2 linked regions of the Homo sapiens genome follow. The protein of the gene in region 2 purifies or fractionates together with the protein of the main gene of each other region. This does not show direct contact. Each region holds a gene or a part of one and is shown on either strand. Other genes may lie near its edges.

Region 1 (3,755 bases), on a different chromosome or scaffold from region 2:
TGCCTAAGTAATGATACTATTGTTTAAATGTTACTAAACTTTTGACTGCAATCCACCAGCTTACAGCCTAACTACCAATATATCCTAAAGTGCCCAAACTGTGATTTTGAAAATCAAAGTATAGTTCAACTAATTCTCCCATAAAATAGGATAATACACCCATTTCCCTAGCTTGATATGAGAATTAAAAGAGAAACCATATGAATAGTACTTAGCCCCGTTCCTGCCACCGGGCACTCAATAAGGCACTTTAGTATAACATAGACGTTCAAACCCTGGCTCCACCAATTAACCATTGTGGTATATTAGGCAAATTATTGATTTCTTTTGGGCTCCCTTTTCTACTCTGTAAAGTGGGGATAATACCTGCCTTATAAATGTAGTTCTACAGAGAAAATGAGATAATGTAAAAAAAAAAACAAAAAAAAAAAGGACTGAGAACATCGCCTGGGTCATACAAAGTGCTCTGTAAATGTTAACTGCTATTAACAGTTAAGTAGCCCTGGTGGGCTTGAGAGGTGTGGTTTAAGAAAAGCCGATCTCCAAAGAGGGCGGGGCCAGAGAAACGGCCAATTTCAAATTTACACCCAGATTAGGACTACTGCAGGAAATAATTATGCCAGATTGCTCTCCTGGAGGATTTCAACGTTTTCCCGTTGTCTAATGGCTCTTAGCATGTGAGGAGTCGTGAGCCCCTCTGAAAAATTGATGAAAGGGGTGTGCTGTCTCAGAAAAGTGCACAGCCTTTGTACACAATTCCAAGGGGTCGACAGAGAGGTCTGAGAACCATCCACCAACTCTTCCCCCAAGAATTTACAGCTCCCAGAAAATGCACTCCTGGTCTAAGCCATGAAGACGGGCCTCGACCCCTGGGCCCTGTCCCCGATTTAGAGGACTGACTGCTGCCAAGCCTCGGAGCTGTAACCAAAACAAAAGCAGCTCGCGTCCGGCGCCCCAAAGAGGTAGGTATCTTCAGGCCACAGAAGCACCCACACAGTCCTGTGCTCTACTGGGCAGCGACCAAACTCGATCCTAGGACCCGTGTGCAAGAACAAGGAGTACAGAACTGCGGGCTCTGGATCATCCCTTAGATTTTATCACGGCCACTGGCCACCTCCGAGGAAGGGTTCAAAGCCAGACTAGGCAGCGGTCTCTGAGGGAAGGTTTTCCTGATGGTTCCAGGAACCAAGAAGAGAGGGAGATGTGTGAAGCGAAAGAGGGAGATCCCAAACATTTCGCTTAGGCACCCATGACTCAAAGTAAATGGTCAAGAAAGGTCATCGCAGCCCGAAATCCACCGCCTCCTCAGCATCGGGAGCGCGGGAGCCAGGGCGCCGGGCCGCGCGAAGGCTTCTGGGGGCTGTAGTCCCCCGCTCGGCCCTCACCGCGACGCCGGAGAGCTGGGAACGGCAGGTGAACTACAACTCCCAGAGGGTAGCCCGCCTCCGCGACGACCACAGATCCGCATCAAAAGAACTGGTCCAGAACTGCACATCTAAACCTAGGTTTTCTGCTCTCCACTATTTAATTCAGCTCCGTGAAGTAAACCTTAGGACTCGGGGTAGGGATCGCCTTACCTTCTCCGGGAGGCAAAGCCGCGTCCACGCGCGCCACCGCCATATTTGCTGCTTGCTAATAATACCAGGCAACCGTCCTCCCGCGGCTCTGTGGAGCTTGTAATCTGAAGGAGGGAGCCGGAAACTATAACTCCCAGGATGCACGGCTCCCAGACGGCCCAATTGGCTGCTTACGCCTAATGATGTGAAGCTGGAGTTAGAATCTGAGGGTAGTGAGCTCAGGGACCCTGGCCCACTCGCTTATTTGACAGATGAGTCAACTGCGTTATTAGATGATCATTTCACTTCCTTGTCCAGGCGTTTGCGAAATTTGACACTTTTACCATCGGGATGATTGTAAGGAAGCTACTTAATGCAGACTGCATTTTACAACTCATTGCTGGAAGTCTCTGTGGGGGCTGCTCCATTCTTTTGATAATTGTGAATAAGTTGAAAGTTTTCAACTCCGCTATAGGAATGACCGATCTTGTTGAGATCATAAAAGTGGATACATTTTATTTGAAATTTTAGTTAAGTAAAAGTAAAGTATGCCGAAATAGAAACTTTTATACAGTATTTTTAAGTGATTGTTTGATTGTTCTTGAATATTTGACAAATCTTTTGACTTACGGGTATAAGTATGAACCAAGAACTTTTCCAGGGAGTATTCAAAATAACTTTAAAATATAATCTCCAGGCCGGGCGCAGTGGTTCACGTCTGTAATCCCAGCACTTTGGGAGGTCAACGCAGGCTGATCACCTGAGGTCGGGAATTCGAGACCCGCCTGGCCAACATGGAGAAACCCCGTCTGTAGTAAAAATACAAAAAAATTAGCCTGGCGTGGCGGCGCATGCCTGTAATCCCAGGTACTCGGGAGGCTGAGGCAGGAGAATCGCTTGAACCCGGGAGGCAGAGGTTGCAGTGAGCCGATATCATGCCACTGCACTCCAGCCTGGGCAACAAGAGCGAAACTATGTCTCAAAAATATATATATTTTATATAGATATTGCATATATTATAATTATATATAAATTATATATTATATATGTTATATATTTAGATATTATATATTATATGTTATATATTTAGATATTATATATTATATATGTTATATATTTAGATATTATATATTATATATGTTATATATTTAGATATATTATATATGTCATATATTTATATATTATATATTATATATGTTATATATTTAGATATTATATATTATATATGTCATATATTTAGATATTATATATTATATATGTTATATATTTAGATATTATATATTATATATGTTATATATTTAGATATATATGTTATATGTTATATATTTATATATTATATATGTTATACATTTATATATTATATATGTTATATATTTATATATTATATATTATATATGTTATATATTTATATATTATATATTATATATGTTATATATTTATATATTATATATTATATATGTTATATATTTATATATTATATATTATATATGTTATATATTTATATATTATATATGTTATATGTTATATATTATATATGTTATATATTTATATATTATATGTGTTATATATGTTATATATTATATATTATATATGTTATATATATTATATATTATATATTATATATGTTATATATTATATATTATATATGTTATAGATTTATATATTATATATTATATATGTTATATATTTATATATTATATATTATATATGTTATATATTTATATATAAATATAGATTATGTATATAAATATATTTTTATATAGTCTCCAAATTCAAGAAATACATTGCCTAGTTGGAAGAAAGCAGGCTCACACTTTTTTCTTTTTTTTTTTTTAGAGACAATTTTTTTTTGCCCAGGCTGGCCTTGAACTCCTGAGCTCAAGTGATCCTTCTGCCTCAGCCCGGCAAAGTGCTGGGATTACAAGCGTGAGCAACGGCGCCGAGCCTTCTTTTGATGCAACTATTATATGCTAAACGGTGTGATTGTGACTGAGCTCACTAATATTTCAGGGAATTGAGAAAGAAATAGAATCTGAAATCTTCAGTGAAGACTTGATGGAGGAAGTAAATGTACCCATCTTTTGATGGGTAGACTGAACAGTTAGTTCTAAAGTAAAAGGTGAAAAGACAGCACAGGCTGCAGGTGGTAACGAAGTTGTGCTCACAGGAAGTGAGAAACTAAACAGAGTATACAAAAAA
Region 2 (3,755 bases):
AGTGATCCATGTGCAAAACATACAGTTCTATCACTACCTCTTTTAAATAATCTATTATAAGGTTCTCTACTAAATGGTAAGAAATCAAGTTGTTAAAAGTCATACTCAAGAGGCTGGGCACGGTGGTGCATGCCTCTAATCCCAGCACTTTGGGAGGCTGAGATGGGTAGATCACTTGAGGTCAGGAATTCGACAACAGCCTGGCCAACATGGTGAAACCCCGTTTCTACAAAAATTAGCCAGGCACGGTGGCATGTGCCTGTAGTCCCAACTACTCAGGAGGCTGAGGCAGGAGAATTGTTTGAACCCAGGAGGAGGAGGCTGCAGTGAGCCGAAATTGCGCCACTGCACTCCAGCCTACGCAAGAGCGAGACTCTGTCTCAAAAAACAACAACAAAAAAAGTCATACTCATTTAACATGGCTAGTCAATTCTAAGACATGTGTGATCACAAAACTAACTAGATCTTTTTCATGAAGTACACCACACAAGTATAACCAAAGCACATTATCTTACTAATATAACCAAATTCTGCTTTAAATTTCAAATCTAAAGAAAAAAATGCACATCCAGCTATAATTTACCAACATACATATTCTTACCTCAAAGCAATGGCTTCAGATTTTATTCAACATTTTCCAAATCATCTCAGGAAGAAATAGCATTTATCTGATAAACCGTTATCGATTATTCTGCAATATACTAAATTTGCAAATAATAGTAATCAACATTGAAAAATGATTCAGTCTACTGACCTCTTTTTCTGAAAATTCCACATTTACATCATTCTTCTGAACATTCTTGATCATAAGTGTAATGACTACTTGAGATTCTGTTTGATACCAGTCATACCTATTAAAAAAAAAAAAGAAACTTAGGTAACTCTTCTAATTTTTTTAAAGCTATTGTCAAAACAAAAACTAGTCTGATAAACAACAAGAGCCCCACCTGGAGGAAGAAAACAGCAAAGCAACTACTGATTCACAGAAACAACTTTATATAACTAGTTTTTTATGCTCTGTACTAATGGAAAAAAATGGTAAGGTAAATGATGCTCACACCTTTCCAGTAGACTTAAATACTTGCATGATTTTCTGGGTTCTGACTCATCTCTAGCACTGTTGTGCTTAAACTAATATAAATATTAAAGATGTCATTTATTTTAAACAAGCTAATATTTATATGCCATCAATAGAGTTTTTATACTCTCATTTCATCCAAATACTACAGATAAACACTTAAATCCCTATTTTACAGATGATAAAACTTAAGCTCAGAAAGGTGAAGCAATAAGCCTGAGTCAACACTCCAAGCTCTCAAAACTGATGTTGGAAGCAGATAGACTTGAGCACACAAAACAGGGGCAAATGAACTAAAATTAAAATCATATGAAGTTTAACTGTGTCAGGCACAACATCATATACAACACTTTCCTTCAATTTCAAGATACATGGAAAGACTAATGGGTCTAGATTCTAATTATGTGCATCTTTTGTACTGAAAGCTCTAGAAACGTAGGAATCCTCACTTTCAAATTAGACTAGATTAAAAGCTCTCTGAGGGCAGAGCTGTTTATCCTGTCGCTATTATATCCCTAGGACCAAGCACAGTGTCCGGTACACGTATATTAAGTTAGATGTGGGATTATTTTATGCTCTGAACACCTTAATTATTATTTCATGGTTATGTGCCCTACCCCTGCTGCTGCCACCAGGGCAAGTCAAAGTTCCTTATCTACTAGGTACTTGGAGTTTCATCCTGTATCTCCCCACAACTACCATGAATAGATGGTTTTTAACTTTTCCAGGCCATTTTAGGTAATTATATCCAAAACCACCTTGATTAAAGAAATGAACTTTAAGAGTCTCGGTTTCCCTTTGCAATTCAGTAAGGATGCAAAGCTCCAGATCAACGGCTTGTGTTTCTGTTACGGTCCTAAGAATACAAGCTGTACACAGGCTAATGAATAATTAAAAGTCAAAGACTTGCTAGTTGCTTATTCATTATTATAATTGCTGCCCTCAGCAATATTAACTTTCAACGCATACAGAATGTTCCTATGAAAAATTTGCTCCAAATATAAAAGGCAGGTTAAGTTACAATTCTGTTAGATCTACTACTAACTTGTTTACCTGTGTAGTAACATAAACTTAACTGGAAGAGACTCTCCTTAACATATGGAAAGGTAACATAATATGAAACCAAGTGAAGCAACTTTAAAGATGAGAAATGATTTGAATTTAACTGAAGTACAAATATTAATCCTTAAACAGCCTTAAAATTGGCTTTACATAAAGCTATTACACAATTTTAGAAAACAAACAAAAACTTAAAAATCACATGGTAAGAATTTGCTTACTATTAAACTACAGGGTTTCTTCCTCTTTAGGCATATTTATCATGCATTGTTTTATGAAAAAGAAACACTCACTTGATTTTTGACTGATGAGTCCACTGGGATGCAGATTGATTTTGGTAAGTTGAAAGAGAAAGATTTTTACAAGTCAGTTTAGCAACTGTATTATTAAAATGCATGTATTATTAATTTACCCAACACTGCAGTTATTTTGATATAAAATAACTACATGAAAATTTTCTTCAAAGACATAGTAACTGTAATTGTTAAATACCACTAGTTTTCGGAAAAAAATTAGAATGCTCAGCATTTAAAAAATCTTAGATTGAATTTCATAAAAGATTTTTGCTCTAAAATAACAGAACTTTAAATAACAGAAAACTTCTAAAGGCATGATTAGAAAAGGTTGCTTATATAAAATGGCCAGTTCTAAGATTCAGCAACTTCCTAAACTAAAATAACATTGTTTTAAAAATCGTTTTAAAGAAACAGAGTAATTAGCCAGGCTTGGTGGTGTACATCTGTAGTCCCAGCTACTTGGAAGGCTGAGGTGGGAAGATTGCTTGAGCCCAGGAGTTTGAAGCTCAAGTGCACTATGATGGCACCACTGCACTCCAGCCTGCATGACAGAGCAAGACCCTGTCAATTTCCAATTTTCTTTAACTTTTGTCTTAGCCTATCATAAAAAGCCCTACAAGTGATTCAAACTGTTGAACCTAAATAAATGCAATAAGGTTTTAGTAACGAAAAGATAAATGATCATCATGACCATATTAAAACACACGAAATCAACTTTAACCACACACTAAATTCATTAAAATAGGCCAATAATTTTCATGACTGGAAACTTCTATATTTATCAAAAAATGATTTTATTTCAGTGCCTAGAGGAACCAGCACTTAAATGGAATTGCTTAATATTTAAATATCAGACAGCTCATCCTGAGTCTTGTCTCAAATATATTTGGTAGCTGAAATTTAAAATAATAAAAACATGAAGAATGAAAACTTTGGACTTACCACCTCAGATTCTGAGCCTATTAAAACATAAAAAGGAAACATTTTCAGGGAACAGTGCATTTTTAAGCAAAGTTATTTGTATGATTTCTATAGCACAAACATACTGATTAAGCAAGCAAATTCTCCGTACCTTTCAACTAAAGAAAAGTGGTTTCATTTTGCATCCTGAATTCATTTTAGACTCCTTAGTAATTTCTTACTGATATACCATACAAGCAAATCCACCCAAATCCCCCTTTCAACATAAGAAGCTATGCAAAAACCAGTGTATCTTTGGAAGTCCACATCTAAGGAAACGTATACTATTTAAAAGAAATTATAAAGATAAAAACAAATTTGTTTAAACCAAAAAAATTTCAGATGTTTACTTCTTTTTAAAT

The links.
Region 1: the proteins of SUGT1 (region 2) and CEP97 purify together in Homo sapiens (affinity purification with mass spectrometry; 3 studies listed by BioGRID and IntAct, with this or other methods). This does not show direct contact.

What each region holds. Positions count from the first base shown.
Region 1 is NC_000003.12:101,722,542-101,726,296, reverse strand, and holds the start of CEP97 (centrosomal protein of 97 kDa), read right to left. Parts: upstream 1,684-3,755; 5' UTR 1,621-1,683; coding exon 1,578-1,620; intron 1-1,577. UniProt on the Homo sapiens protein: Acts as a key negative regulator of ciliogenesis in collaboration with CCP110 by capping the mother centriole thereby preventing cilia formation. Required for recruitment of CCP110 to the centrosome.
Region 2 is NC_000013.11:52,662,733-52,666,487, reverse strand, and holds part of SUGT1 (protein SGT1 homolog), read right to left. Parts: intron 3,393-3,755; coding exon 3,376-3,392; intron 2,454-3,375; coding exon 2,431-2,453; intron 852-2,430; coding exon 755-851; intron 1-754. UniProt on the Homo sapiens protein: May play a role in ubiquitination and subsequent proteasomal degradation of target proteins.